4 linked regions of the Homo sapiens genome follow. The protein of the gene in region 1 interacts with the protein of each later gene in a biochemical or structural test. Each region holds a gene or a part of one and is shown in the gene's direction. Other genes may lie near its edges.

The links.
Region 2: the proteins of GNAQ (region 1) and GRM7 form a complex in vitro, tested with the Homo sapiens proteins (one study listed by BioGRID).
Region 3: the proteins of GNAQ (region 1) and PLCB1 form a complex in vitro, tested with the Homo sapiens proteins (2 studies listed by BioGRID, with this or other methods).
Region 4: the proteins of GNAQ (region 1) and BTK form a complex in vitro, tested with the Homo sapiens proteins (one study listed by BioGRID).

The regions. Positions count from the first base shown.
Region 1 is NC_000009.12:77,715,365-77,721,548, reverse strand, and holds the end of GNAQ (guanine nucleotide-binding protein G(q) subunit alpha), read left to right. Parts: intron 1-35; coding exon 36-226; 3' UTR 227-5,452; downstream 5,453-6,184.
Region 2 is NC_000003.12:7,675,497-7,683,465, forward strand, and holds part of GRM7 (metabotropic glutamate receptor 7 isoform a precursor), read left to right. Parts: intron 1-4,528; coding exon of another isoform or gene 4,529-4,552; coding exon 4,553-4,799; intron 4,800-7,969. UniProt on the Homo sapiens protein: G-protein coupled receptor activated by glutamate that regulates axon outgrowth through the MAPK-cAMP-PKA signaling pathway during neuronal development.
Region 3 is NC_000020.11:8,127,486-8,135,621, forward strand, and holds the start of PLCB1 (1-phosphatidylinositol 4,5-bisphosphate phosphodiesterase beta-1), read left to right. Parts: upstream 1-4,780; 5' UTR 4,781-5,166; coding exon 5,167-5,265; intron 5,266-8,136.
Region 4 is NC_000023.11:101,375,593-101,383,561, reverse strand, and holds part of BTK (tyrosine-protein kinase BTK), read left to right. Parts: intron 1-5,538; exon of another isoform or gene 5,539-5,703; intron 5,704-7,969. UniProt on the Homo sapiens protein: Non-receptor tyrosine kinase indispensable for B lymphocyte development, differentiation and signaling. Binding of antigen to the B-cell antigen receptor (BCR) triggers signaling that ultimately leads to B-cell activation.

The DNA.
Region 1 (6,184 bases):
GTAACAAAGTGTCCCTCTTGTCTCTTGGCCGAAAGGACCCCAGAGAGATGCCCAGGCAGCCCGAGAATTCATTCTGAAGATGTTCGTGGACCTGAACCCAGACAGTGACAAAATTATCTACTCCCACTTCACGTGCGCCACAGACACCGAGAATATCCGCTTTGTCTTTGCTGCCGTCAAGGACACCATCCTCCAGTTGAACCTGAAGGAGTACAATCTGGTCTAATTGTGCCTCCTAGACACCCGCCCTGCCCTTCCCTGGTGGGCTATTGAAGATACACAAGAGGGACTGTATTTCTGTGGAAAACAATTTGCATAATACTAATTTATTGCCGTCCTGGACTCTGTGTGAGCGTGTCCACAGAGTTTGTAGTAAATATTATGATTTTATTTAAACTATTCAGAGGAAAAACAGAGGATGCTGAAGTACAGTCCCAGCACATTTCCTCTCTATCTTTTTTTTAGGCAAAACCTTGTGACTCAGTGTATTTTAAATTCTCAGTCATGCACTCACAAAGATAAGACTTGTTTCTTTCTGTCTCTCTCTCTTTTTCTTTTCTATGGAGCAAAACAAAGCTGATTTCCCTTTTTTCTTCCCCCGCTAATTCATACCTCCCTCCTGATGTTTTTCCCAGGTTACAATGGCCTTTATCCTAGTTCCATTCTTGGTCAAGTTTTTCTCTCAAATGATACAGTCAGGACACATCGTTCGATTTAAGCCATCATCAGCTTAATTTAAGTTTGTAGTTTTTGCTGAAGGATTATATGTATTAATACTTACGGTTTTAAATGTGTTGCTTTGGATACACACATAGTTTCTTTTTTAATAGAATATACTGTCTTGTCTCACTTTGGACTGGGACAGTGGATGCCCATCTAAAAGTTAAGTGTCATTTCTTTTAGATGTTTACCTTCAGCCATAGCTTGATTGCTCAGAGAAATATGCAGAAGGCAGGATCAAAGACACACAGGAGTCCTTTCTTTTGAAATGCCACGTGCCATTGTCTTTCCTCCCTTCTTTGCTTCTTTTTCTTACCCTCTCTTTCAATTGCAGATGCCAAAAAAGATGCCAACAGACACTACATTACCCTAATGGCTGCTACCCAGAACCTTTTTATAGGTTGTTCTTAATTTTTTTGTTGTTGTTGTTCAAGCTTTTCCTTTCTTTTTTTTCTTGGTGTTTGGGCCACGATTTTAAAATGACTTTTATTATGGGTATGTGTTGCCAAAGCTGGCTTTTTGTCAAATAAAATGAATACGAACTTAAAAAATAAAAGCTGGTATCTTAAAATGTAAGAGAGTAAGACTGTGAAGCCTAAAATGACTGGCTGAGAATGAACCAGAAATGCCATTTGCCAAACAGTTGTAACTAGAAATTTGATTCTCACGGTCCATTCTTTTCTTTGTCCTTAAGATGACATTGTTAGTGTTCACGTCCCATGTTCAGTGTCCAAACCGGCAATGTAAAAAGTATCCTGTGTGGTTTAACAGGAAATCTGTTTATGTCTCTTTATTTGAAACCAGTTTTACTCTCAGTGGTTCTTTAAGTTCAATGAAGTCTGCCAGGAACATTGGTTGGTAGTATTATTCCGACACCTTTAATTTCCAAAATCTGAAGTTCCTGCTAGTTTACCACCTTCATGATCTTCTTGAACTGGTAACTGATTAGGTTGAACTTATGGAAGATTTGTGGACTTAACTCAAAAGTAACCTCTCAGTGTTCTATAGAACATGTATTTGTGTAACTGAACCTACCAGGAGAAATGTTTGGAATTCTATATGTGCAATTTTTCAACAAATGCAAAAAAAATACAGCACATGTATTGACAAGCTTCTGTCAAGCAGCTTGAGTTGAAATTTGATTTAAGAAAATAAATCATGATTGTTCAAAGCTGCTGGGACGTTAGAATTAGGCCATGATACTGGTCTCATTTTAACTACAGTGGTATTTGGCACTAGTGTAAACTTCCATATAAATCACTCTTTTGGAACAACAAAGGGGGAGGGAGAAAAATCACGGCCTGTTAAATGAGTACCAAAGCCGCCCAACAGTAATGAGATGTTCTCATCCTTGATTCTCCCAGCCTCAAACAACACAGCTTACTTTTTTTTTCCCTTGCTCAGAAAGTACCTGTAATTTAACAAACAGACTGCCTGTAGGTATAGTGCAATTACAAATGCTCTAATCATTGTACATACATCTCTCTTGATATTGCAGCATCCATACTGGCTTTGTAATCATTAATTTTTTGGCAGATTGAATGTGCTGTATTGATATGTATCTATGTAATTGTATTGTATGTCTATAGCTAATTCACGTTTTGAATAATGTTATTTTATTTACTTTTTTAAGAGAGGAGAATGTAAATTTGTCAGTTTATTTCTGACTAGGGATATTTTCTTTCCATTTAGAAAAGAAGAAAAAAAAAAAACCTTACTGTCATACAGAGCGGTACTAGCGTCGTGCTGTATAAAATCATTTGCACATTCCTGAGTAGAGGTATACTGATTATAAGACCCAAAGGTAATTTCATAGCAAAATACATAAAATCAGTCGGAGCTTTTATACAAACATGGAAACCAACTTTGTAGAACTTTTGCCATTTGATCTAGGATTGGAATATGAGCTTTTATACAATTCATATTCTTATTTGGCAAATGCACAGTTTAGTATTACCTCTCTGATGGCCTTTACTAGAAAGGCAGTTTTAGAAGCTATTGTGATCCACTAAGGAAATGTTTTAACAGCTAGAGACCACTGCTTGCCTGAAAGGGCGTTCTTAAATTTGGTGCAGCAAAAAAAAAAAAAAAAAAAAAAAAAATTAAACAACAACATTTGAAGGCCTACAGTGTGTATAGAGAAAACCTCATCACAAGATCATAAGTGTTACAGTTTTAGGGAATCAAGATATTCTATTTAATAGAGCTATAGTAAATGTAGTCAATTAAACCTGATCTCAAAGCTTGAAGAAGCTGAGCAAAACAGGGAAAGATTGTTATATTTGTCTTTATGAAATTGGGATGGAATTTGCTATGCAGAATTGAGGTTTGTGGCTTCGCTGTTCCTGTAGGGTGCATGACAAGATCCCTTCTCTTGAGAAAGGAAAAAATTGATCACCCTAGCAGCAGTGATGCATAGAAACCTAATTTTAGCCACACCAGTCAATCGAAGCTAAAGGATTTTCTTTTTTGTTTCTTCGGGGTTTTATTGAAGGGGCTAGGGGCGGGACGGGATTCTTTTCAGTTTTGTATAAAAACAAAGTTTACTCATGCTTTATATTATATTGTGATTGCAAGCGTTATAAGCGTGTGCCACTGGCCTCCTATTGTTGATGCTTAGGTAATGGAGGCCTGTGGTGAGTTTTATGGTGACTTGGGCATGTCTTATTCAAAAACAAAAACATAAAACACAGAAACCTTTCTTCAGCATACCAAGGCAAGCAGCCATTTCATGACTCACTTAACACATTGCAGTGTACCAGTTTACAGATGATTTTTCCCTTTTTGCGTGACATGGCAGTTCTAACCCCCAGAGAATTCCTTATTTGTAAATTGGAAGTTTCTACTATGCCTTACAGAGCTTAAATTCAGAAGTTTGTGCCTCATATCTGAAACAAAGGGAAATAACACACCCATTCAAAAGTAAATAAATCTCCTAGAAGTTTTTGTTTTTAACATTTCCATATAAAGAGCTCTGTTGAATGTCATGAATAGACTGGAAAAAAAAATTTTAAGAACCTGCATATGTTGTTTACTAGCAGATGACAACTACAAAAGGAATCTGAAGAACACGTAAAACTTGTATTTTTTTTTTTTTGGTAGATTAACTAGCAGGCCTATTTTAAAAAGGTAATTCAGCTAAAGGGCAATTTACTTTTTTGTACTTCAGACTATCTTGATTGTCAAAGTGTACGAACTGTAATTTTAAAATTTATACTGCCACATGATTGTAAATTTTAGTTGTCTTAAGTTAGGAATTGGTGAAAAGCTATTTATGCTGGATTTGGGTCAAAATGACTTATTTGCAAAAAAATAAATAATGGGAAGAAAGGGCTGTATAATGAAATACTGCAAGACTCACATATTGGTTGGAAATTTCCCTCAAATCACCTACCGATTACCCTTGATTTCCCTTTGTTTTCAGTTTCTCAAAACGAATGAAATGAAATATAGCAGAATGTTAACCCATATAAAAATAAAGTGTACCCAAATATTGTAATGTATATTGCTGCTCTTCTTCAAATTAAATAAGGGTTTAAAACCACTTAATTGGTAATCAACATCTCAATTGATACAAATAAGGTGTGCTTGGTATACATTAATATTTTCTTCCAAAGATATATCTTTGGTTAGAAACACAAAAAAATAAAACTAGTAATATTGTATGTTTATCTATCTCTACATATTTCCAGCATATGTAGCGTTAATAGATCTGTCCTGGTAACTGTGTCTTTGGGATTTCATTTTGGTTCCATCAAATTAGGAAAAGAAATGGCTTAGTTGTATATGATTAGCTAGAGATTTTTGGAGCCAGACACCTGCTGTTTAGTAGATAACTTAGTACAGACCCTAAACTTGTCATTTGTTTTTCTCACAGAATAGCCATTTCCTGCTGTCTTCCCAATGATCACTGCCCTTTCAATAACACTCTTGCCTCTAGAATCATATGTTCAAAGTATGAATACACACCTAGCACATAGTAGGTGCTCAAATATTAATTTCCTCCTTGCCTTCCTTATCTACCCTGTGTCCTCCATTTCCCCGTATGATTCCAACCCAATATAGCAAATGACATTTACATGTTATGAAAACATCTATTGGGTAAAATCAGATCTTGGATAAAGAAATTCTGACTTTTATATAAGCTTTTGGTAGACAGAAAAAACAGAAAGGTATTCGTTGGTAGAACATTTTTAAGTTCAGGAAAGAAAGCTGGAATAATACTACGTAACTTTGTCCAGGTTACTTTGACTGAAACACGTTTTTGGTGGATTTCTTTTCCTCAAAGAACTCTCTAAATGCAACTCCTTGCTGGATTCCTCACCCATCATCCTGTTGGAAACCCTTACTAGACCTATGTATTTAGGGAGTTTTGTCAGAAAACATTTTTAACTTGCAGTATTTAAAAGAATATTTACTGTTCCTAAAATGTCATTCAAATGCATGTACTGTCTATTGTTTGGGGATGGGAACTAGTTTTGCAAAAAACACCTAATGTTGTATAATAATGCCCCAATGATCTTGCTGGTTAAAAATACAGTATTTTTGGCCATAATTTTGTACTATAGTATTCTTCATTGTTGAGTTTTGCTTCCATTAAAGTTGCCCGAGCCCCTCTCAGAATGTTTTGTATTAGTAGGAGTACTGAAATACATCTTTCCTTCCTTAACACACCTTGTGCATATTGCATTTTCCAAAATAAACAAGTTTAATGGTTTCAAAAAAAAAAAAACACCAAAAAACCTTTTCCCTTCTGTGTATAATCAGAAATAAGAGTCTCCTGTAGTGGAAATACACATATTGGTAGCATTTATCAAATTTGCTCTTTGAAAAAACTTGCCTTAATTTAGGTTATAATTAACTGGTTAAAAAAAAAAGTAAATACCTATCCAATAAAGAAAGGAGCCAGCAATCTTCAACCTGAGGCAGTCTCCCAATCAGTAAAAAGAATCCACACATCTGCCCTGGTTTACTGGGTAGCACACTGGACTCAGGCCAATGGCTGGCTTAAGAGTTTTGCCCATTTCAACACTGGCAGTGAATAGGTAGACTCCACATGGGAAAAATGACATGTCACAGGTGTCCTCTCTGAGTTTTAGAAACACATCCAGGCTTTTGAGGTCAGCTAAAAATCAGCTGCTCCTGGGAGTTTTATTAAGTGGAGGTGATGGTGGCAAGTGGCTTTCTGGAAAATAGGTACTTTTGTGGGGACTTTAAGCCACAGCAAAAGCAAAACCTGTTCCTGTTACTCCAACTGGCAGCCAGCCCTTGCTTATGGATTTTTGTTTTTCAGAATATGTCCCCTCTAAATACTAAGAGATGAGAGTGTCATTTTTGCTTAAAGGCCTTCAGCTCTCCTTGTGTGATTTAGAGACCATTTCCAGTAGATGGTATTCTCTCTCTCTGTCTTAACTGTTCAAGGAATGGCGTGGCACTGACTGTCATCTAGCACAGGCCTGGAGTG
Region 2 (7,969 bases), on another chromosome or scaffold:
TTATAAGGCAATAAAGGCATCTTGTGATATGCATTCATATTTTATCCAACAATGAACTATTTAGGCCAAGATGAGAAAATGGCATGGAGCATGTTCAACTGAGCTTTGCCTGGCATTGAATTCACCACATATTTATGCACTTTAATAGAATATTTGCTGGTACATTTCTATCTGACTAGACATGAATAGGAGTGGGCTTTATAAACACTATTACTTAATCAACAACCTATACATAAAGAGTTTAAAATATATAAAGTGGTTACAGTGAAAGCCGTATCCTTAGATCTAAACCCCAGAAACCTAACCTGGCAGAAAATAAATATTAACAGATAACATTTCCTGGGTACTTATTTTCCAGGCTTTCTGCTAAACCATTTTCATATATTAATTGGTTACTTCTTCGTAATGACCACATGAGGTACAAACTATTATGATTTTGATTTTACAGTTCAGAAAACTGAAAGACAGAGAGAATAGTTATAGCTATGGGTTCTGCACATCGGACTTTTTTTTTTGTCGCCCAGGCTGGAGTGCAGTGGCGTGATCGTGATCTTGGCTCAGTGCAAACTCCGCCTCCTGGGTTACAAATAAAGGAAAGTGATGTGAAATACCTAACCTTAAACAGGGCAGTGCATTATACAATAAGCATCAGGTAAAATAATAACCATGGGACTAAATATAGATATGCTAGAATTTACTAAAGAATGTACTAAAGAAGATGGTGGGGTGAAAACTCATAACTTCAGTGTGAGCCTCCTACCTCACCAAAAGCCAAAGAGTCAGTAGCCTAGCTTCCCTGCTAGGCTTAGTGGGAGCAGGTCCCTGGGGACCAATACCTCTGAGATCTCTGTGGACTGAAGCCTTCTTAGCCTTCATACCTACATATAGTCATGTGCCACATAATGACATTTTGATAAACAGATTATATTTTTATCATGCTTATTCTTTGTTTTAATTAATTAATTAATTAATTATTTTTGAGATGGAGTCTCACTCTGTCTCCCAGGCTGGGAATGCAGTGATGTGATCTCCGCTCTCTGCAACCTGTGCCTCCCAGATTCAAGTGATTCTCTTGGCTCAGCCTCCTGAGTTACTGGGATTACAGGCACCCGCCACCACACCTGGTGGGGTTTTGCCATGTTGGCCAGGCTGGTCTTGAATGCCTGACCTCAGGTGATCTGCCCGCCTCGGCCTCCCAAAGTGCTAGGATTACAGGTGTGAGCCTATGTTTAACTATATTTAGATACATAAATACCACTGTGTTACAATTGCCCACAGTATTCAGTATTGTAACATGCTGTAAAGGTTTGTAGCCTAGGAGCAATAGGTTAAACCGTTTAGCCTAGGACTTTAGTAGACTATGCCACCAAGATTTGTGTCAGTACATTATGATGGTTGCACAATAACAAATTACCTAATAATGCATTTCTTAGAACACATTTCTGTCATTAAGTGATGCATGACTGTACTTATTAAAAAATAAGGCTGGGCATGGTGGCTCACGCCTGTAATCCCAGCACTTTGGGAGGCCGAGGCAGGAGGATCACGAGGTCAGGAGATCAAGACCATCCTGGCTAACACGGTGAAACCCCGTCTCTACTAAAAATACAAAAAAATTAGCCGGGCGCGGTGGCACGTGCCTGTAGTCCCAGCTACTCAGCAGACTGAGGCAGGAGACTCGCTTGAACCCGTGAGGCAGAGGTTGCAGTGAGCTGAGATCGCACCACTGCTCTCCAACCTGGGCAATAGAGGGAGACTCTGTCTTTAAAAAAAAAAAAAAAAAAAAAAAAAAAAAAAACTTACATATTACTTATTAATACTATGTGCTAGGCCCTACACTAAACACTTTACAAATACTTATTTAACCATCAAGCAAGACAACATTATGAGGTAGGTACTATTTTTATGCTCATTTTGCAGATACCGAAGCTGAGGAGAAGTAATTTGTCCAAGGTCACAAAACTAGTAAATGGGAATTGAACTCAGATAGACTAGCTCTAGAATCTGCATTCTTATCCACTGTGCTATGTCAAGAGGATTCAGGGATGGAGGGGCTGTAGAAAAAATATGATTAGTGAAGTTTATTTCAGTTTTCACATACTTTCGAAGTGTCACCAGAGACTGCAAAATTTTTTAAATGAAAATCAAAGTCTTGATGGTCTCTAGTTTAAAAATGATGAAACTAAACACTTCATAAAATAAACATGATAGTTGTAGAGTCCTAAATTGCTAAGTAGTCTTTGTTAAGAAAAAGTATGTATGTTACTGGGTACATAGTCAAAAGACAACAAATTGTTCCACCAAAAGACGCATGTACTCACAGCACTTTTCACAATAGCAAAGACATGGAATCAACCTAGGTGCATCGACAGTGGGCTGGATAAAGAAAATGTGGTACATATATACCATGAAATATTATGCATCCATAAAAAAGAACAAACCATGTTGAACTGTAGGCCATTTTTCTAGGTGAATTAACACAGAAACAGAAAATCAAATACCTCATGTTCTTACTTATAAGGTGCAGCTTAACATTGGGTAGTCATGGAGATAAAGATGACAGTAGACACTGGGGCCTAATAGAAGAGTGGGCAAGGGTTGAAAAAATAAATATTAGGTACTATCTTCAGTACCTGAGTGTGGAATTATTCATACCCCAAACCTCAGCATCATGCAATATACCCATGTAATAAACCTGCACATGTACCCCTGAATCTAAAAGTTGAAAAAAGAAAACATATGTGTACACACATACAAATATACATAAGCATATATGCATGTATAATTTATAATTATAAATAATAAAACAAGAAGTCTGAATAATTTCATCAACTGCAAAATTCACTCATAAGCAGAGAAACAGAAACAAAACCTAAGATCCCATAGGTTTGTTGACATCCTTTTCCTTTTTGAACTAAGCCATGGTTTGCAAATCTCTCATAAGTACGGTGACAGTGGTGACAAAAATTGTCTATGTCTATAAAGCCCTGTGACCATGTAAAGCCTTTCTTGAACAGTGTAGGCTGGCAAGGTGGAATGACATTAAAAGTCTAAAGGTATGCTAGTAGGGAAATATGAACTTTAAAAATATGAACTAATTTACACTTTAAAGAGTCATTAATTCAACATTGTTTTGTCTTTCTATGTTACATTCATTATGTATTATAGTCAGCAGCTGGTAGCTCCTTTTAACCGTTTGGAGACATACATATTCAAATTAATGTTGGCTAGAAAACTGTATTATTTCCAGACGAGATGGCAAAGTTGTCTTTGATTTCACTAGGGCCTCTGTTTGAAGAATTAAGATCAGAAATGTCCAGGCAGCCAATATGTCTGATGGAAATTTTTGTATAGCGATAGGCTGTTTAACCAGTGAGTTATAGGTAGGAAAAAGGTGTCCATTAGACAAACACATGAGCCTATCCATTGTATGTTTATCAAGTGCCTTCTTTGCAGACAATAATAATGTCCCAGAAAGACAGATCCTGCCTTCATGGAACTTAAGGCCTAGCAGGAAAATGGGCAGAAAAATGATCAAGATACTGAGTGCATAATTACAACAGAGACAAATGATCTAAAGAAGTCCTTTGAGAGTGTATCAGTAAAGAAGCTGGCCTAGACTTGAGGCTGTGAGTGCGGGCAGCCTGGGATGGGCATGCTAAGAAGAAAAGGAGGAACGTTCCATACGTAGGAAAACAAAAATAAAGAAAAGGGGCATGGAGAAAAGTTCTGTGATTGAATGAGTACAGTTCATTCATGATCTAAAGGACAGCCCAAATGGACGGAACCCTGGGAAGGCAAGACAGGGGATCAGGGGGTCAGGGAGTTGGGAAATAGTGGACAATTAGTCTAAAACAGTAGGCAAGCACAAACCATCCAAACTGCAAATAACACAACTCCAGAATAAGGCGTTGCATCTCATTAGTAATTTGACAATATAGAGTAGACAAGCCAACATCACTAGATCTTGTTCACTTGTCACTTGTGTTTTATAAGACAGAATTAAGCAAGAAGATCTTAGTTTTCAGAGAAAGTCAACTCACTATTCAGCAGATAGGGAAAAGGCGTGCCTTTCTAGAAAACAATATAAAAAGAGACATACATTAAGATAAAGACTTCTCAAAAGGCCCCAGAATCTCAATGTAGGAAGAAATCATGGAGTGTGAACCCTCTTTTACATGTATGAAAGATAAAACCTAACCACACCTTAATCAAGATTACAGATTTCTATGGTCTTCATGTCTTTATATTTAGCTGCCACTTCAATTAGAAGTCCTTCAAATATGATTAAAGGTTTACTCTGAACTTTAATATAAGAGACTTCTGTAGGGCAAGCATGTGCATGGATTGACCCAATAGCATTCAATCAATTAATACATGCATATGCTCTCCAATAACTGTGCAGAGTTATTGTGCTTTCCTTTATTTATCAAAATGCCCTGAAGATTGCTTTATCTCCTAGCCATAGTCGTTCTTGACATCGCTTTAAGTGTTCAGACCCCTACTGCAGTCATTTTATTTGTAATAGTGCCTTGTGTGTTGTGTCTCCTAGCTCTACATACAAACTACCACGCTTACAATCTCCATGAACCTAAGTGCATCAGTGGCGCTGGGGATGCTATACATGCCGAAAGTGTACATCATCATTTTCCACCCTGAACTCAATGTCCAGAAACGGAAGCGAAGCTTCAAGGCGGTAGTCACAGCAGCCACCATGTCATCGAGGCTGTCACACAAACCCAGTGACAGACCCAACGGTGAGGCAAAGACCGAGCTCTGTGAAAACGTAGACCCAAACAGTAAGTAACTCTCCGTTTCTTTCATCTTCCCACCCTGCATCAGGAAGCTCTAGAAGATGTGGGGTGTGCTTGCCTCTCTGGAGAAATACTGTGATCGTTCTTGTCTTATGGGCTGGGTTGCCTTGGTGAATGCCAGCTTCTGCTCTTTTGAGTTTGACTCATTCCTGCCACCATTTTCTTTTTGTTCCTTGTTGGAAAGAAGCTTTTGGAGGCTCTGCTTCAGAAGTGTGAAGCCTCCCCCTTCCCTTGCTTCTTGTCCTCTGGTACTGAATCCTCCAACTGACAAATGCACCTATCAGGTTGTTCTTTTCTTGCACCCTTCCTGCTAAGGCAACAACTTTTTGTCAGGGAAACTTCCATACTTAATGAACTGTATCGGTGGGAATTAATTAGGATTTTGGAAGCGAAACTTTTTTCCTCTAGCATGTGAATGTTGAAAAAGTTATTTTGTACTAATCAGGTCTTCTAGAAACATATAAAATATTGGAAAAAGTTGTCAAATCCAGGTACACAGGGCCAGACACTACCATGATAACGGCATCATACTGTGGGGAAAAACATATCTACCATACCACTGGAGAAGAGTTTTATTCTATGCAAGACAAACCTTAGGGAAGAAATCAAGGAAAAAAAACATTGGATTTAAGATGCTATTATATGGCATATCTGCAAAACTCTAGGAGCCTTTAGTCATGCATGCAAATGTCCCCAGGTAAAATGGGCATATAGCTATCACTTTGTAAGTAACACAAGACCAGCTCAAAGGTTAAATGCTTAGAATTCCCAATTGCTAACTTTACTAACAATATGGTGGTAAGAGTAAATTTCAGATTTAAAATACTAGTTTTAAGATTTGTTTTCCAGGAATATTTTGGCTAGTTGCATTTAGAATGAGGCAGATTCAAATATTTGTGATACTTCCTGTTGTTTAAGGCAGAAGGGATTTCAGGTTATCCATTAAGTCATTCACGACATACTGTATTTCAGTTAGAAGCTGATCTTGGTGTCAAATGCTTAATGCCAAATAGAAGGAAGTCTCAATTTTAAGTACTCTTGAAGAAATCCTTTTTGCTCTGCAAATAAGAGAGATATCTTTAATAAAAACCAAGAAGCCAACTGGGTTTGATCCTGACAAACACTACACAAAGAACTGTGATTTTGGCCTGTCTCTATTTATGAATAGTTGAGTGAATGTCGTGAAATACTTTGAAAATATGTAGACAAAGTAACAAGGTTAATTAACAACATTGTGGGCTCCAGTTTGACTTTGTGACAGAAGTCCTAGGACAAGTCTAAAGGAACATACTGAGAAGGGAGGAACAGAATGAATGATATAGGCTCTGTTGTGTCTCCAGAGCAAGTGGCCAATTGAGAGGAGGGCAAGTGGATGGTGACTTGCTGTGGCATTCAGTGTGATGTAGGAAGAGGCTTTGGGTTGAGACATACCTGGGTTCAAATGTAAACCACTCCATTTACCAGCCATGTGGCATTAAGAATCACTGAGCTTTTCTAAAACTCAACATAATTATGTATAAAAGAGATAATAACTATGTCATAAGTGTATCACAAAATACTATATTGAGAAAATACTATATCAACTAAATGTCAACGTCTTTCCCTTCCTGAAGAGGCAAAAAGCTTTGCTTAGAAATAAGTTTCAGCATAATTTATTAAGATATAGTAGCTAAAAAGATGCAGTTAAGTGTAGATTAAACACCACAGGGTAGATAAAACTCAATCCTCAAAAGAAGAATTTATGGCTGGGCGTGGTGGCTCACGCCTGTAATCCCAGCACTTTGGGAGGACGAGGTGGGCGGATCACCTGAGGTTAGGAGTTGGTGACCAGCCTGACCAACATGGAGAAACCCCGTCTCTACTAAAAATACAAAATTAGCCGGGCATGGTTGCGCGTGCCTGTAATCCCAGCTACTTGGGAGGCTGAGGCAGGAGAATCGCTTGAACCCAGGAGGGCAGAGGTTGCAGTGAGCTGAGATCGTGCCATTGCACTCCAGCCTGGGCAACAAGAGCAAAACTCCATCTCAAAAAAAAAAAAAAAAAAAAGAAAAAGAAAAAAAAGAGAAGAATTTATATGAACATATGTGTGCATCTATTATACCTATACCTGTATTGATAAACATATATGTATATTTATAATTAGTGGCTTTTTATTATAGGTTGTCTTGTCAAATTTGCATTTCATAAAACCTTTTCTTGCAAATATTCCAATAACAGCTTTATTTTTGTACACACACACACACACACACACACACACACACATTTAACTAGATACTGTTCAAAGTCAATAAGCAGAAAACATAATTGGAGGGCTATATTTACTGGGGAAAAAGACGAAATTAGAAGTTTTGAGTTTAGACAATTCAATACTATGCTACTTAAGAATTGTTAACTTTCAAAAAACATTACTACTGTTGCTATTTAATGATGAGGTGCAATCCTTGTTGAGGCTTTTTTGGGTATGACATTGGTTGTTAAAATGCTAACACTGACATTAATGCTAATGCTTGCATAAGGTACTCATTGAAATAGGCATTATGCGGAATGCTTTGTGTGGAATGTCCCACTTACTCCTCACAGTAGATCTATAGAATAGATATTGTTATTCTTATTTTACTGAGGAAACCTTGGCTTCCCAAGATTAAGTAACATTATCAAAGCCACACATGTGGTTAACAGCAGAGGTTGGACTAAAGCCCAGGTCTGACTCTTCAACCCACGCTTGTTCCTCTTTGCTCCTCTGTTTCTTAGAATATGAATGGCATGTCGAAATTCCAATGCAGGAACTATGCTTTTGGTTTCCTTATTTGGTAATATCATTTGTATATGCAGAATATAATGATGTTTGGTGGGAGATTCTTTAAACATACTGTAACGTATTATTGCTTGTTTTGTCTACAAAGACAGGAGTAACCTGAGCTCAAAGAAGGCTGCCCAGGTAGAGGCCTCATTTGATTAATTTAAAAATTGTATTCCAATGATTTCATTTGGTATCTCTTTCCTTGCAAAAGTTTCACTGGGTCTTTGTTGTTGTTCTAGTGTCTACATAGAGCCAAGGTAAACAATTCAGAAAAATAAAATAAAATAGAGTCTTTTTCTCACCACCAGCTGGAAAGATTTTTTTAAATTGCTTTAGCTCTTTGGTTATTGTGTAG
Region 3 (8,136 bases), on another chromosome or scaffold:
AATTAGAATGCTGTCTTTTAAGACTAAAAGAGTTATTTAGGGCATAGAAAGGGAATATAGTAGAATTTCAGAATAACCATATGTGTGTTAACTACTATTGATTACCGCTGTGACAGGGACTTAGATATATGATTTCATTTAATCTTTGCAATACCTCTTTAAGACAGCTTACTGTGGTGGTTAAATATGTAGGCTCTGGGGTCAAACTGCCTAGTTTAAATTCTGGTTCACTCACTTACTAGCTGGAAAATGTTGAACAACTACTTAACACTTCTCTGACTCAGATTACCCAGCTATAAAGTGGAGATAATAGTAACCCGGCTCCTAGGGGTTAATATGACAGTGAATGCATTAAAAATGTAAAACCCTGAGAAGAGTATGTGACATAAAAAGCTTTGACATTATTATTATTTCTCCATTTACATATTAGGACCTTGTATTTCAGAAGAGATAAGAGACTTTCCCACGGTTACGTACGTAGTAATTGGTAGAACTGGCTGTTAAAAGATATGTCTATTCAAATCAAAACACTGTCCTTCCCACTGTGGCAGGCCTCAAGTGAGTTATGAGCTGACAAGAGACTGGAGTACATACCACAATCTAGTTTCTAGGGAAATTAGGACTATTTATATTACACTGTGGTTAAAAGGAGAGAGAAACTACTCATATCTGCCTTATAAGTTGTAGAAGTATCTACCATGGTAGTTAAGAGTCTAGGTTCTAAAGTCAGACTTCCTAGGTCTCCATCTCAATTCCGAATTTTGTAACTGGAGGAGGTTAATCCATCCTCCAAACTTTAGTATATAAATCAGTAAAATAGCATACAATAATATTATCTACCAGATCAGCTGAGAGTAACAATAAAGCTTAAATAATAAAGAGATTTATTATCTCACTCATTAAAAAGTCTAAAGAAAATTTAAAGGGTTTAAAAAGCTCATGAAGGACCAGGTTTCTTTGCATCTTTCTTGTCAGTGTCCTCTTTACATAACAATATGAGACAGAGAAAGAGAATTTCCCTGAAGACATTAGTCAGAACTGAGCCCCTCATATAGCTCTTAAACCAGTTACAGACAAAGGGGAATGGAATTATTGACATTAGTTTAGGCCAATCATAGTTTGTTCCTTGGAAAGAGAGAGGGGCCATGTTTCCTAAGCATGACGACCACCCAAATTAAGTCAGGGTTTGCTTACAAGAAAAAGAGGGTGGAGAGTGGTGTTGAATAGGAAGGGTTATGTTTTTTAGTGTCTGGGAAGTGCTTAGCTTAGTGCTCTGACCCACAGTGAGTGCTCAATAAAGGTTAGCTTTGCCAGCTCCCTGAGGCTGACATTCCCAGAGGGCAATTCTGTGCTCTCACAAAAAACAGACCTTCCTATTGTTTCAAAAAACAGTACACAGCACCGAACTTGACGGATCACAGGCCTGGCTCACACAATTTTGGATTTCTTACAGATCCCTTTGCATAGCAAAAATCTCCACACTTGGACACAGGAAGGGGAACATCACACACCGGGAACTGTTGTGGGGTGGGGGGACGGGGGAGGGATAGCATTAGGAGATATACCTAATGCTAAATGATGAGTTAATGGGTGCAGCACAACAACATGGCACGTGTATACATATGTAACTAACCTGAACGTTGTGCACACGTACCCTAAAACTTAAAGTATAATAATAATAATTTAAAAAAAAGAATGGGAAAAAAACAAAAAAACTCCACACTTTAGAAACATTTCTATCTTGTATACTGAACAAAAGGTGTGGAAAATGAGGGAGTTAAACCATGCTGCTTCAAGCATCATGCTACATGTTGAAGGTATTTATCCTGTAGTTCTCCTTTAACAAACTGCGTCATTTTGCTGGCTGAAGAAACTCTTGCAGCCCATGTTTGTCTTGAAGACAAATCCTGTTCAGATTTCTACAGCGTTCTCTCCTTTTTACGTCCACGTTCACAGCAACAGCTGGGAGGAATCAGGGATGCTAGATGAAATACTCAACTATCCATTGCCAATAATGGTGGTTACCAAATGACTCCCAACTCAGTGCCATTCAACAATGAACGTTTATTGTCATGTTCATGAGTCTGCAGGTTGGCTGAGTCTGGGAGATCTAGGATGGTTTCTACTGGACTTGCTTCCAAGCTGTAAATGGGGCTTAGGTCTGTCCTGATTGTCTCCTTAGATCAGAGGCTCCCTGAGGCATGTTTATCTCATGGAAATGATAAGAAACCCAAGAGGGAAAGCCCAACCTCAAAGCATATTTTGAGCCTTTGCTAATATCACATCTTCAAACATGCCATTGGCCAAAGCAAGTCACATTGTCCAACATCAATGGGATGGATAAATAAACAGGGTGTCTAGTAAAAACTGTAAGGTCACAAAGAAAAATGTGTGGACGCAGAAAGGAGCAGGGAGCAGAGAGCTATGATGCAATAAACTACCACAGGAGGCTCAATCTACTTCTTATTTTGCTTAGAGCTCATTGTAACTCTCCAATCTCCTCTTCTAGTGAGCGCAGCCCTGTCTTGCCTTCCTAAGCCACTGTGACAGGTAAAAACTATTTGGCCAATAATCTTTCCAGTAAATAACAAAGAGATAGAAGGAGAAAAGGAAAAGAAAGGAAAGGAAAGGAGGAAAGGAAAGGAAAGGAAAGGAAAGGAAAACAATTTGGTATGATCAGTTGTAAGGACAATTGAGAAGTTCTGGAGCCCTGGAAGCAGAGTTTCATTGCAGTACTCTGAAGTAGAGAAAATCGACTTGAGACGGTGACTGATACCTTCTGTGAGGTAATTAGCAAGCCAAGGCTGCTGGCTAGAGGGACTGTGGACCATTCAGGTTTTAGTTTAGGGACATGTGATCAAAATGAAACCAGTCAGTTTTTCATGAAATTCTTTGTAGCAATTGGCTTCCAAGCACAAGGCAAGACCCTCAAATGACAGCAAGAGTCATGGGTCTTGTTCACCAGGTTATCCATGGTGATTACAATAGTGGCTAGTATACAGCTGGCTACCAATAAGTATATTTTAAATGCATTGAAATATTTAATAGCAAATTTCTGTATTGGATTTTGGTAATCTTTTGACTGAGTTCATAAGCATTGGGCCTTGGAGTCCTGAGGGCAGAGAACAGGGAGAATGAAGGATTAAGAGAATGTAGTGTTTCTCTCCATTTTTCTCTCTTCGTATTCTTTCTTCTTTTTAAAAATCAACCTTTTTGAGATATAATTTATTTAAAACAAACTGCACTCAATTTAGGCGTACTTACAGAACTTACAAGTTTTGATAAACACACACACGATATAGAACATTTCCGACATGCTCATCAGGTGCTCGTAGCCCTTCCCTGTCCATCTCTACCTATCCCTGGCCACAGGCAAGCTTTCTGTCAACATAGAATATCTTGCCTATTCTGCAATTCCTACACATGGAATCAGGCAGCATACAGTCTATCGTGTCCGGCTTCTTTTACAAAGCTTAAAGTCGCGATTCATCCCTGATCTTGCATGCCCACTCATTTTTATTGTGGAATAGTATTCCAATATTTGGGCATACCACAGTTTGTTTATCCATTCACCTGTTGATTGACATTTGCAGGCTACTAAGAAGAAAGTTCTTCACATCACTTTACAAGTCCCTGCAGACTTGAACGTTTTCATTTCTTTTGGACAAATACTTAGGAGTGGAATTTCTAGGTTGTATGATAAGTAAATATCTTACTTTATAAGAAACTATTCTCCAAAGTGGTTTTACTATTTTATATTCCCTCCAGCAATGAACAAGAGTTCCAAGCTATTTCTCTCTCCGCCCCCCCACCTCCCGCGTGTGTCTCTCTCTCTCTCTCTTTCTCTCTCTCACACTCACTCACTCTCTCTCTCCCTCTCCTCTCTCTCCTTAATAAAAAAAAAAAAAGAGTTCCAGTTGCTCCACATCCTTTCAAGCATTTGGTATTACCAGTCTTTAAAATTTTATCCATTCTGGTCCTCCTCTTTCCCTTCTTCCCTCCCTCCCTCCCTTTCTTTCTTGAATTGAGAAATGTTTGTGGAAGGAGTGAAGACAAACATTCCTGGACCTATGTTCCTAAATGAGCAAGTTTCTATTAATAAGACTCTCCCCCACCCGCCACACATCCTACACACTCAAGGAGAGGAGCGGGAGAGGGCACCCTCTTTCTTCCTCGGAAAATAAAACCTTTGCTTTCTTTAGGATGGGCTTTCTGTCTCGAAAGCACAACGTAACCGTTTGCCCGGGTTTCAAGATCAGCGCGCTGCAAACTCTCAGGCGCGGCCAGGTTTCCTCAAAGAGCCTCTCAACTGCGCTCTTCTCTGCTGATAAATGATAATTCTCTTCAAAAAGCTGGTTTGTGGCTGGCGCTGGAGAGCTCCAGCTAGAGCCAAAAGCCAGGGGTTGCCTCTTTGGTTCCTCCCGATGGGCCCCTTTTCCCAGCCAGTTGGGATCCAAAGACGCTCCGGAGCTCGAGCCCAAATTCCCAAGAAAACCCCAAAGAGCGTAAGGCTCCTGGGGACCCCTAGCACCTCTGCAACCAGGGCACGGGGCATGCTCAGAGCGAATGCGGGAGGCAGGCGTTGGCTGCAATGGGGCTCGGGAGCCAGGAGGTGCCGCTGCGTCCCCGCTTCCTGGCGCCTGACCCAGCGTGCAAAGTTGGGCTGGGAGCCGCGGGGGGAAGGAAGGACCCAGCGAGCGAGGGTGGCGGGGAAGGGGGGCGGGGGGGAGGAGGAGGGAGGAGGGAAAAGAGCGGTTAGGGGGGGCGCCGGGCGTGTGTCACTCGCTCTCTCCCTCTGTGTATAGAGGATGTGCTGAATGGTGCGCTTTGAGGCGGCGGCGGCGGAGGAGCAGAATCCGCCGCGACTGGCAGCCTCGGCTGACCGGCTCGGCTTCTCTTCGCCTTCCGAGGCTCCTCATCCACCGCGGGCTCCAGACCTCGCGTCCCGCCCGGGGCATGGCCGGGCGCTGCGCCCCCGCGCGCTCTGCCTGCTGAGCGGCGCCGGAGGGAGGTGCGGAGGCCGGGAGGCCGGGGAGGCCGGCGGGGAGCAGAGTCGAGCGCCTCCGGAGCAGAGAAAGGAGCCCGCGCCCCGCGCCCCGCGCCCCGCGCACGGTCCCCAGTCCCTGCCGCGCTCGCCCGGGCCGCCCGGAGCCCAGATGAGCCCAGATGGCCGGGGCTCAACCCGGAGTGCACGCCTTGCAACTCAAGCCCGTGTGCGTGTCCGACAGCCTCAAGAAGGGCACCAAATTCGTCAAGTGGGATGATGTAAGTATTGGGGCGGCCCGAGTCGGGGCGCTGGCTCGGGCACCGGGCAGGGCGGGCGTCGTGGGGGTGGGGCAAGGGGCGCGTTATGCAATGGGCGCACTGGGAGCGGGCAGGGGCAGCCTCGGGCGCACAGGTTGGCATCTGCCAAAGCGGATGTCCAAGGGCAGAAGCTTTGCGCGCGCTCCTGTTTCATCGGGCTTCAGTAGTTGCCATCCTTTCTGGGTCTGGCAGGCGCCCCCTGAGGGTCTTACATCTTTTGGGCCAGTGGAGAGGGAGGGGCAAGCTTTGCCTGGTGACAGGTCCTGAGAGTTCGGAAAGTAGGGAGTGTGAAGTTGGGACCAACTGGAAAGCGCCTGGTGTGAACAAATCGCGTCCCTCTCCGCCTGCGGACGCACCCCCTATTACCTCTTTTGCCCGATTTCAAGAAGGAAGGACCTGAAGTTCAAAACACTTTAGTGATTGCGAACCCTCTTGGCGCTTTTGTGGGAGCCAAGGCGGCGGAGGACACAACGGTCCAGCCAACAGGTGGTCGTTGATGCCAAACTTCAGCGCCTGGCTCCGGAGTGAGGGTCCCTGAAAAGGGCTGCGGGGACACATCTGGGGAGGGCGTGAACAGAATGGGGGCCCTTGAGGGGTCCTGGAGGGCTCATGGGCCTGCAGGCAAGTGGGGAGGGCTGACTTTTGAGAACTGAGCTGATTGGAGTCTTCTGCCTGAAATAGACAGGTTGAGAGTTTGCCCCACGATTTACCTGCACCGTTTGCCAGGTAGGGCAGAGCCTAGCCCAGCGCCGGGGTCTCTAATGCTTTACGAGCGGCCCAGACCCCAGGACTTCAAATGACTTCCCCTTCCCCTCTACCCCAGTTGTCTTCAAAACACGTAAATTAGTTATCCAGCTGAAAACATGCGAATCTTCGGATGGAGAACATTATGGTATCAGTTTTATGTCCTGGGTGTCATTCTAAAGGTTCGATAAGAAAAACCTACTGAAATAAACCCGAGTTGCCAGGCTCTAAGCAAATTTAAGTCCAAATGACTAATACATCTCTTAATCAGAAGGAATTATAGGAGAATGAGGCGTTCTTCTTGCCGAAAAGATTTTCCACCTAGTAAATTATAGCCTGTTATCCTCTAGGGTATTTTTCTTTAATCTTCTTAAGCCATTTTCCAGTGTCTGAAAACAATTTAAATATTCCAGGTAGTGAATCCAATTACTTAGCTGAGTGCGTCTGTGTCTATATTTTGTCCAGCTGGAAGCGCAAACGGAACTTGGAGTATGAACCACAGCTTCCTTGAAAGCTCGTGCCAATTATTAAATGCTGTAGGCAAGGATGTAAACATACATCTTTTTACCATGGGCTTCACACTTTTCTTCTTTCTGTTCCAGTCTAATTGTACTGAATGTTTCTGTAAATGGAATAGAATCTAAACAATAAATTCAGACGCAGATTAAATGCTTTGTGTCAGGGAAAAAAAAGACAAAGAAAATGCAGTTCAGCAATAAACAAGACGGTCTTGCCCATTTTGAGATCCTTGAATAGAGAGGTGATGTGATGATGGATTTACTGAGAAAGAGAGTGAAGGGCAGAGGAAAGAGAAAGAGACTTTGCAGAATTTAGAAAAGGGAGTTTCAGCGTAAGCTCTGGATTTGTATACAGTGATGATTCTAAACTGTATTTTAAATAATTCTCTATAATTTCTTGTTTGGGAGAGAATAGCCAACATCACATTGAGAATGAAAGTATTCTATGAAAACACATTTTGGTATATCCAGGTAGATGACTTTCATTATGTGCATTTCTGTAACACATATTTCTTGCTCACCTATTACTGCCAATCCTAGACTGGATTCTGGGGTGGTGAAAAAAGTAGACAAAATCCCTGCTGTTACGGACCTTACATGCTAGGTGGAGGAGACAAAAATCATCAAAAACACCAATGAGAGAGAGATTGGGTGATGCATTGAGGGTAATAGAGAGGACGTTAGTGAAATACCAACCAAAGAAGAAGTTGAAAAGAGCTCCTTCTGAGCATTGCAGCAGTGAGTTTCCAAGGAAGCCCTCCTGAAAGAAAGGACATAGTCACTAAGGAGAAGACCAGAAGAATTTCAGGTCTTTTTTAAAAAAAAAAAAAAAACCTAGACTGCACTCAGGAGTCAAGTTATCTGGAATATAATGAGCTATCTTGCAGGCTCTTTGGTTCTCTGGGTCTTCATGCTGATCAGTGGACTACAAGGGACCCAGCCTTTCTTAAGGTTGCCTTTCTCTTCCCCAGGCATCCCTTTTCTACTCTTCTCAGCTCGTATTTGCCCTTCCAGAATCAAGCCAGTTCAAGTTATCTGGCTATTTATATTGTACCTTAGTGAGACAGTGTGTTGAAGACAAAAAAGAACCAGATCTTGAATCAAAGGCCTGAGTTTACCTCCTAGTTCTTTCACCAGTAAGCTGCATGACTTTAGGCAAATCACTTAGCTTCTCTGTATTTTTGCTGCTTCTTGTGTAAAAGCGTGGTAATGTTACAGGACATTCAAAAATGATGAATTTGGGGCTGTTTAGGATGTGAAGAAATTATCTCTTGTTCCTGAAGTGATTAAAGCAGTATAATCACTGGTCTTGTTGTCTTGACCACCATATGGAATGGAAGATGTCACCCAGAGGTTGCAGTGCCATGCATAATTTGCTGGCCACCTACCAAGTCACAGTGAGGCTGTGGATGCTCTAAGGGTGGTAGTCGAAAGCTTTAACATAGGCACTAAACAATCACAACAGACAGCAGGGGGGTAATAGATCCTGGAGATACCCTGTTGTACCAGGGCCAGGCGTTAATATTTTTGCTGCTTGGTCATGGGGAGGTCTGGGAGTCCCCAGGGTCTG
Region 4 (7,969 bases), on another chromosome or scaffold:
ATTGACTCAATGAAAAAAAAAAAAGATTTGTCTGCAGTAAAACCAGAGTTTTAAAAATGATTAGAAATGGACCAGAAAAGAGATAAGGATAATGAGAAAGGGGGCTCTCTAAAACTATTTGGAACTGAAATTGGGACAATGTTTCTGGAAACTATTTTGGCAGTATGTATCAAAATGCAAAATGCACATACTTTTTTGACTCTGGAAATGATGCTTGTATAGAGATCCTAATAACATGGGAAAATAATTAGGAATAATGTTAAATAAGAACATTAGATCTTTTTTTGGAAAAAGGTACCTTGAACGGATGGATGGATGGATAGATACATACATACATGCATACATACATACATAGATGTTACGAAAAATAGGTAAATTAACTGAATGTGCAATATGATCTCAAATATTATAAGAAACACACACAGAAAAAAATGGAAGGAATATGCCGATATATTAATGCCTCTGGATGAGTTTATGAATGATTTTTTCTTTTTTATATCCCTGTACTTGACATATTTTCTACAATAAGCATGTTTTATTTTACTATATTTTGTTTTATTTTGAGATGGGGGTCTCCCTATGTTTCTCAGGCTGACCTTGAACTCTTGGGCTCAAGCAATCCTCCAATATCAGCCTCCTGAGTAGCTGGGACTACAGGTGCACCCCACTGCACCCAGCTGCGTGTGTTATTTTGATATCGATGGAAAAAATAAATAAAATGTTTAAGCCAAGGAAAACAAAAACTAGGTTGAAAAAGAAGGCCAAAAGGGCACACAAGTCCAGAGTGAAAGACAGACACCCCAGCAGTCACCCTCAGAGCAGAGGGAGAATATTGAAAGTATTACCACTGATCTGATCTGGCACTGACTATAAACTTGCAGATTGGCTCTCTGGCTCTCCTTCCATCATCAGTTGGCCAGAATATATTGTCGCTAATGCAAGACAAAAAGAGATGATGAATCACAGAGACCTAGAAGTTTCCAAAACCACAGAAGAAAAATGTAAAATGCTAAAAACATAAGGCCAGGCGCGGTGGCTCAAGCCTGTAATCCCAGCATTTTGGGAGGCCGAGGCAGGTGTCATGGTGTGCGGCTGTAGTCCAAGCTACTCAGGAGGCTGAGGCAAGAGAATTGCTTGAAACTGGGAGGTAGCGATTGCAGTGAGCCAAGATTGCGCTACTGTACCGAAGCCTGGATGACAGAGCGAGACTCTGTCTCAAAAATAAATAAATAAATAAATAAATAAATAAAACATGAACTGCTGTGGAAGAACCAGAGAGCCCTAAGGCCTCCTGTAAATGACTACAGCAGGAGAGTTTCCCTGGTCAGCATGCAGCTTTCGAAAATTGAGTTTGGCTTGATGCCTTCATCACAAATTTGGTCCCCTGTAGCCTTGACTATGAAGCTTATCATAAAATAATTGGGTTTCACTGGGGCCCGAACAAAAGCATCTTGGGAATTTAACAAGATTAAAGGTTGCTTTGTTGCTGTGGGTATGATTTTTTTTTCTTTTTTCTTTTTTTTTTTTTTTGAGACGGAGTCTGACTCTGTCACCCAGGCTGGAGTGCAGTGGCACGATCTCGGCTCACTGCAACCTCCGCCTCCTGGGTTCAAGCAATTCTCCTGCCTCAGCCTCCTGAGTAACTGGGATTACAGGTGCGCGCCACCACGCCAGGCTAATTTTTGTATTTTTAGTAGAGACAGGGTTTCTCCATGTTGGTCAGGCTGGCTGCTCTCAAACTCCTGACCTTGCCATCCAGCCGCCTCAGCCTCCCAAAGTGCTGGGATTACAGGCATGAGCTACCACACGTGGCCATATGTAAATTTTAAACATGTAAACCAATACTGTATATCTTTTATAGATATTTACATCTGTAATGATAATATGAAAACGTACCTAGGAATGATAAACACCAAATTCAAGATATTGGTAATCTCTAAGGAGGGAGAAGACTAAGATTTTGGAGTACATAAAGGGGTCTTGATTATATAGATAGTATTTCAGTTCTTAACACGTTCTCTTCTGGTCCCAAGGCCAAGGAATTCTCAATTGAAATCTCAGTTAGAACGTGAAGGATGCTTCTTGGGACTGGGAAGAGATTTTCCGTAGGCCAAATTTAACCTCCCACTAGAGATAGTTGATAATTCTACCACATTTCATAGTGAAGCATCAGGAAGACAGGACTGAAAAGGCAAGAAGGAATGATGCAAATTGCATAGTCCAAAAGATAAGCTGGACCTAGGTTTGCCAGTTTGTCTAAGTAACTGAGAATTCATTCTGAGATCAAAAAATCAAAATAATGTTCACAGCAGCATTGTTTATCACTGAAAGCAAACAACCTAAATGTCCATCAACAGGAGAATGAATAAATATATTGGAATGTATTCATCATATAGAATATTTTATGCATATAAAAATGAATTAAAACATATGAAGTAGAACTAGCCAGATAAATAAATCCTAACATATTATATTGAGGGGAAAAAAGCAAGTTGCTGGAGAATGTGTACCATATATATATATATAAATTTTCTTTTTTTTTTTTTTTTTTTTTCGCGACCGAGTTTCACTCTTGTTGCCCAGGCTGGAGTGCAATGGCAAGATCTCGGCTCACTGCAACCTCTGCCTCCCGGGTTCAAGGGATTCTCCCGCCTCAGCCTCCTGAGTAGCTGGGAGAGTAGCGTTGGCCCAGCTAGTTTTTGTATTTTTAGTAGAGACAGGGTTTCTCCATGTTGGTCAGGCTGGCTGCTCTCAAACTCCTGACCTTGTCATCCACCCGCCTCAGCCTCCCAAAGTGCTGGGATTACAGGCCTGAGTTACCGCACCTGGCCATATGTAAATTTTAAACATGTAAACCAATACTATATATCTTTTATAGATACTTACATCTGTAATAATAATATGAAAACATACCTAGGAATGATAAACACCAAACTCAAGATATTGGTAATCTCTATGGAGGGAGAAGACTAAGATTTTGGAGTACATAAAGGGGTCTTGATTATATAGATTGTATCTCACTTCTTAACACGTGAGGCAATATGGCACAATTTTAGGATTTTGTAGAGCTAAGCGGTGAGTCCAAGATTGTAATGTTATAGTCCCTGTACTTTCTATTTGAAATATTTCATAATATAAAACAAAGTATATTTGAGGCCAGGTGCAGCAGCTCATGCCTGTAATCCCCACACTTTGGAAGGCTGAGACAAGAAGATCACTTGCATCCAGGAGTTTGAGACTAGCCTAGGCAACAAAGTGAGACCCGTGTCTCTACAAAAAAATTAAAAATTAGCTGGGTGTGGTAGTGCACACCTGTAGTCCCAGCTACTTGAGAGGCTGAGGCAGGAGGATCGCTTGAGCCCAGGAGGTGGAGGCTGCAGTGAGTGGTGATCTTGCTACTGCACTCCATCCTGGGTGACAGAGTGAGACCCTGTCTCAAAAAAATAGAAGGTATATTTGATCAAAGTTTTATATTCACAGTAAGCAATAAGAACCCTAGGGACAGAGAAGGGTGGATGTTCCACCTAAACACTGTGCTTTCATTCCATCAACAATGAAACATCCAGGAAAGGAAACAACAAGTGACTCTAGAAATTCACTAGTTAGACAGAATCTCCTTGGGAATGATTTAAAGAGGGAAAATGTAAGAAAACCTGGCAAGACTAAGAAGAGTCCTCAAGTGCAAAAAAAGTATAGTTGACAGTTACCAGAGACAGATCATCCTTACCAGCCTGGAGGAATATTGCAGAGGAAAGAGCTTAGGATCTTGAATACTCTCTTATCTCCTGTATTTACCACCATTTCCTCTCTTGCTGAACATTCCTAGAAAATGGAGAGGAGTTTGTCACAACTGCTCTTTGATGATAGCCATGGAGAATGACAGGGGCCCCAAGGCAGATGGCATCAACCTCATCAAAGACCAAAAAACAAATAAACGAACAAAAATCCCTCCGGTAGGCAGTGAAACACCACAAAAAAAGCAAGGGCTATAGATGATATACCAAGAGCTACAGATGGATGAGGTTGGACAAGTCACATAACCTCTGTGTCAGTTTCCTCATCTGTTTGTTGTGAGGAATAAATGAAATAATGCCTGTAAAATGCCTGTCAGGTAGAAGTCACTGAAAGGAACAGAAGTTCCATTCCATCCCCCTAAGGAAAGACAGGGAATGGCCAGAATCTTCCTAGCCAATTGAGTAGTGCTTTCAAGGAGAAATCAAGAGAAAACACTACTTCTTGGATATTTTGGCTAAGTAGTCATTTGAAGTACAGTTGACTGGTTATTTTATTTTAAATCATATCTCATAGACTCTTCCCAATCATAGGCTGGCTGTGTAGTTTTCTGAATTTTGCTCTGGTATTCTTCTTCTTTTTTTTTTTTATTTTTATTTTTTATTTTTTTTTTGAGACTCCAGGCTGGAGTGCAGTGTCACGATCTTGGCTCACTGCAACCTCCGCCTCCCGAGTTCAAGCGATTCTCCTGCCTCAGCCTCCTGAGTTGCTGGGACTACAGGCGCCTGTCACCACGCCCGGCTAATTTTTTGTATTTTAATAGAGACGGGATTTCACCATGTTGGCCAGGCTGGTCTCTAACTCCTGACCTCAAGTGATCCGCCAGCCTCAGCCTCCCAAAGTGCTGGGATTACGGGCATGAGCCACTGCGCCTGGACTTATTATTCTTAATAGTATTTTATCTTATGAGCGAAGATAAGAGCCCAAGATGGTTTAGTTTACTGATTCTGCAAGTGCTATTTCTATTAATTCCTTGGCATACTGCAGTTTGTATGATGGCTGCACTCTTGTTAATAAGCTTCGTCTTTCTGAATTCTGTTGCTCCATAGGGAGCTGGGAGGCTGCAAAAGGTGGCCCTGTAAAAATCTTTGCATTTATAATTTAATAAAGGGGACATTGTAACACTGGAACTCCATATTTTAAATGAAGAGCTCTGTGTCTATTTTTTCTCCTCCCCCATTTCTTTCTTTCTATAAACAACAGTGGTGTGTGTGTGTGTGTGTGTGTGTGTGTGTGTGTGTCTGTATGTTTGAGACATTCAAGTCACTTCCATTTCCACCCTTCACCCTGAGTGGAGCTCAGGGTTAGCCATCATTGTGCATATTTTGTGGTCAAACCGACTCTGTAGGCTACTGAAATTGTTTTAAAAAAATTGGGGCCTTTACTGGCCAGGCACGGTGGCTCATACCTGTAATTCCAGCACTTTGGGAGGCCAAGGTAGGCAGGTCACCTGAGGTCAGGAGTTCAAGACCAGCCTGGCCAACATGGGGAAACCCCACCTCTACTAAAAATACAAAAATTAGCCAGGTGTGGTGGCACACGCCTGTAATCCCGGCTACTTGGGAGGCCGAGGCAGGAGAATTGCTTGAACCCAGGAGATGGAGGTTGCAGTGAGCCAAGATCGTGCCACTGCACTCCAGCCTGGGCAACAAAGCAAGATTCCGTCTCAAAAAAAAAAAAAAAAAATGGGGCCTTTCACAATAAGTACCCACAGAAGCTTTACCCTCTAACTACTTTTTAACTCAGAGCTGTGTGTTACACACCAACCTTCTGGAGGACTCAAAAATGGATCCCTTTCCTTTCACATTATTGAGTGATGGACCAGTGGCACCTAAGGAAGAGCTACCACATTTTCAGGCTGTGTGAGTCTGGACTGGATCATAAGAAACAGGAGAAAAGCAGTCAAAGAAGGTGGTACCAAATCATGGCAATTCTGGTAGACCTCTAGCTCAATGATCTAGAGGTGGAGGCCATTTCACCTTTTGCTCAGAGGGGCGATGGCTAGTGAGAGACTTGCTTACTTCCTCATAGTCAGAGCAGCACTAAACCCTGCCCAAACACAGATACTTGAGAGAGAGGAAGACTTCCTCTTGTACAAACTGGATTTGTTCTAAAACAGAGAAAGAGTAGAGGCAGCTTCCAGAAGGACCTGTCTTATAGGAAGTAAGAGCAGGGGACAAGAATGAAACAGATGGTGGGTCTAAGCAGGGAATGTATCCACCAAGAGCCTGCAACAAAACTAAAGATAAAATGTTGCCTGCGATTTATTCGGCTAAGAGAAGTACACCAGACATGGTTTGTTGGGATGCTTCTGACCCCATTTACTGGTCACAGTACTCAATTTATTTAGGGTTTTATTTTTTATCCTGTAATTTGAGTCTTTGATTGTGAAGAGGTACTTAATTATAATTTGCCACAAGAATAATTGTGGTATGATTACAGGGCTCTCAATGAGTTGGTAGTTCCTGAGAATAGAGTAGTATTATTTGGTTACCACTACTCCTGAGTAAATGCATAATTGTAATGTTAAAATGAACCTCTTTGAGTTTAGAGCTAAAACTGAGTGTTGGGAAGGGCTGATTGTAAACTCATCAATTTGTCACTCCAGTGAGAGACCATTTAAACCAGGGAGTCAGGGTGTGTGGCAGGGTGGAGGGAAAGGTTTGCACTCTTGCCCAATTTTTCTCAAAATCTAATTTACAAAATATTGAATTAATCCACCTCCAGAAGATAGTGGCATACACATGGTAGATAAGTGGCAAAGCGATCTTCCAGAACACCCCTGGTGTTCCTTTGACGTATTTTCGTCTCCCCAGCATGAGAATAGAACCTCCTACACCACAGGAAAGAGCAAAATAACAGTGTGGATAGCCCCCAGGCTTTGATAAAATTCACTCCCTTGCTTTCCTAGTGTGAGCAATAATCTGCTTAAAAAGTAGAAAAAAACTGCTGGCTTTATTCATTCTGCTTCCACGGTGCCACCAAAAGCATAAGGAGTTTACTTAAAAAATAGACACATTCCCACCCCCACCCCCCCACCAGAGGAAAAATCCCTACCACTAATTAAACTTGAATGGAGGGCTGGTGGTTTTTTCGTTACTTACTTAGTGTTTTTTTGTTGTTGTTTTTGATTTTGTTTTTTGAGACGGAGTTTCGCTCTTGTTGCCCCGACTGGAGTATAATGGCACAATCTCGGCTCACTGCAACCTCCGCCTCCTGGGTTCAAGCGATTCTCCTGCCTCAGCCTCCCGAGTAGCTGGGATTACAGGCATCCACCACTACGCCCGGCTATTTTTGTATTTTTAGTAGAGACGGGGTTTTGCCATGTTGGCCAGGTTGGTCTTGAACTGTTGACCTCAGGTGATCCGCCAGCCTCGGCCTCCCAAAGTGCTGGGATTACAGATGTGAGCCACCGCGCCGGCCTAGTGTTCTATTTTTATGACAGCATTTGTTTTCACTTTATCTTTCCAATGAAAGTTCGGAATTAGTAATAATATTACACTGTGCATAAACTGTAAGTGAATAACTGATATGAAGTGTTGCTTGGTGTGAATAAAAAAGCCAGTGGTGACTTTGGGAACTTTATTTGTCTTTCTGTGTTTCAGTTACCTAAATTGAATCCTTCTGGAGTATTGTAGGTTTGGGGAGGCTAAATAAGTTGTGTTTCATAAATGAACAGAGGTGGCATCTATATCAGTAAGACAGTTGCATCACTTTTGCATGATGCTGTCTAAAAGAACTAATTTAAGCTAAATGGGGAAAAGGTCAGAAAACAACAACTACCCCCCCCCCACCAAAACCCACCAAAAAAAATTATGTTTTCAACTTTAGAACAAATCTTCTATCCTTTGTAGCTCAGTCAGTGGGTGTGGGCAAAATCAGTTGGGCAGCAGTTAGTGTGTGTCCAGAACTGCAGGTGCAGCCTCCATATCCTTATTAGTTCCCTTGGTTACAGACCCCAGTGGGACAATGTTTGAAAAATTATATTCACCGTCTAGGAAATTGGGAACTGAAAGTCCAATATCTGCCTCAGTGGAGTTCTGGCACCTGCATTATCCCTTCTGGGTATATCAAGATCAACAGCTGCACAGATACTTTTGCTTTTCACAGATTCTACACATATCATATAAAGGTGAATAGTGTAAAGCTACCTCTACACCTTACCAAGCACACAGGT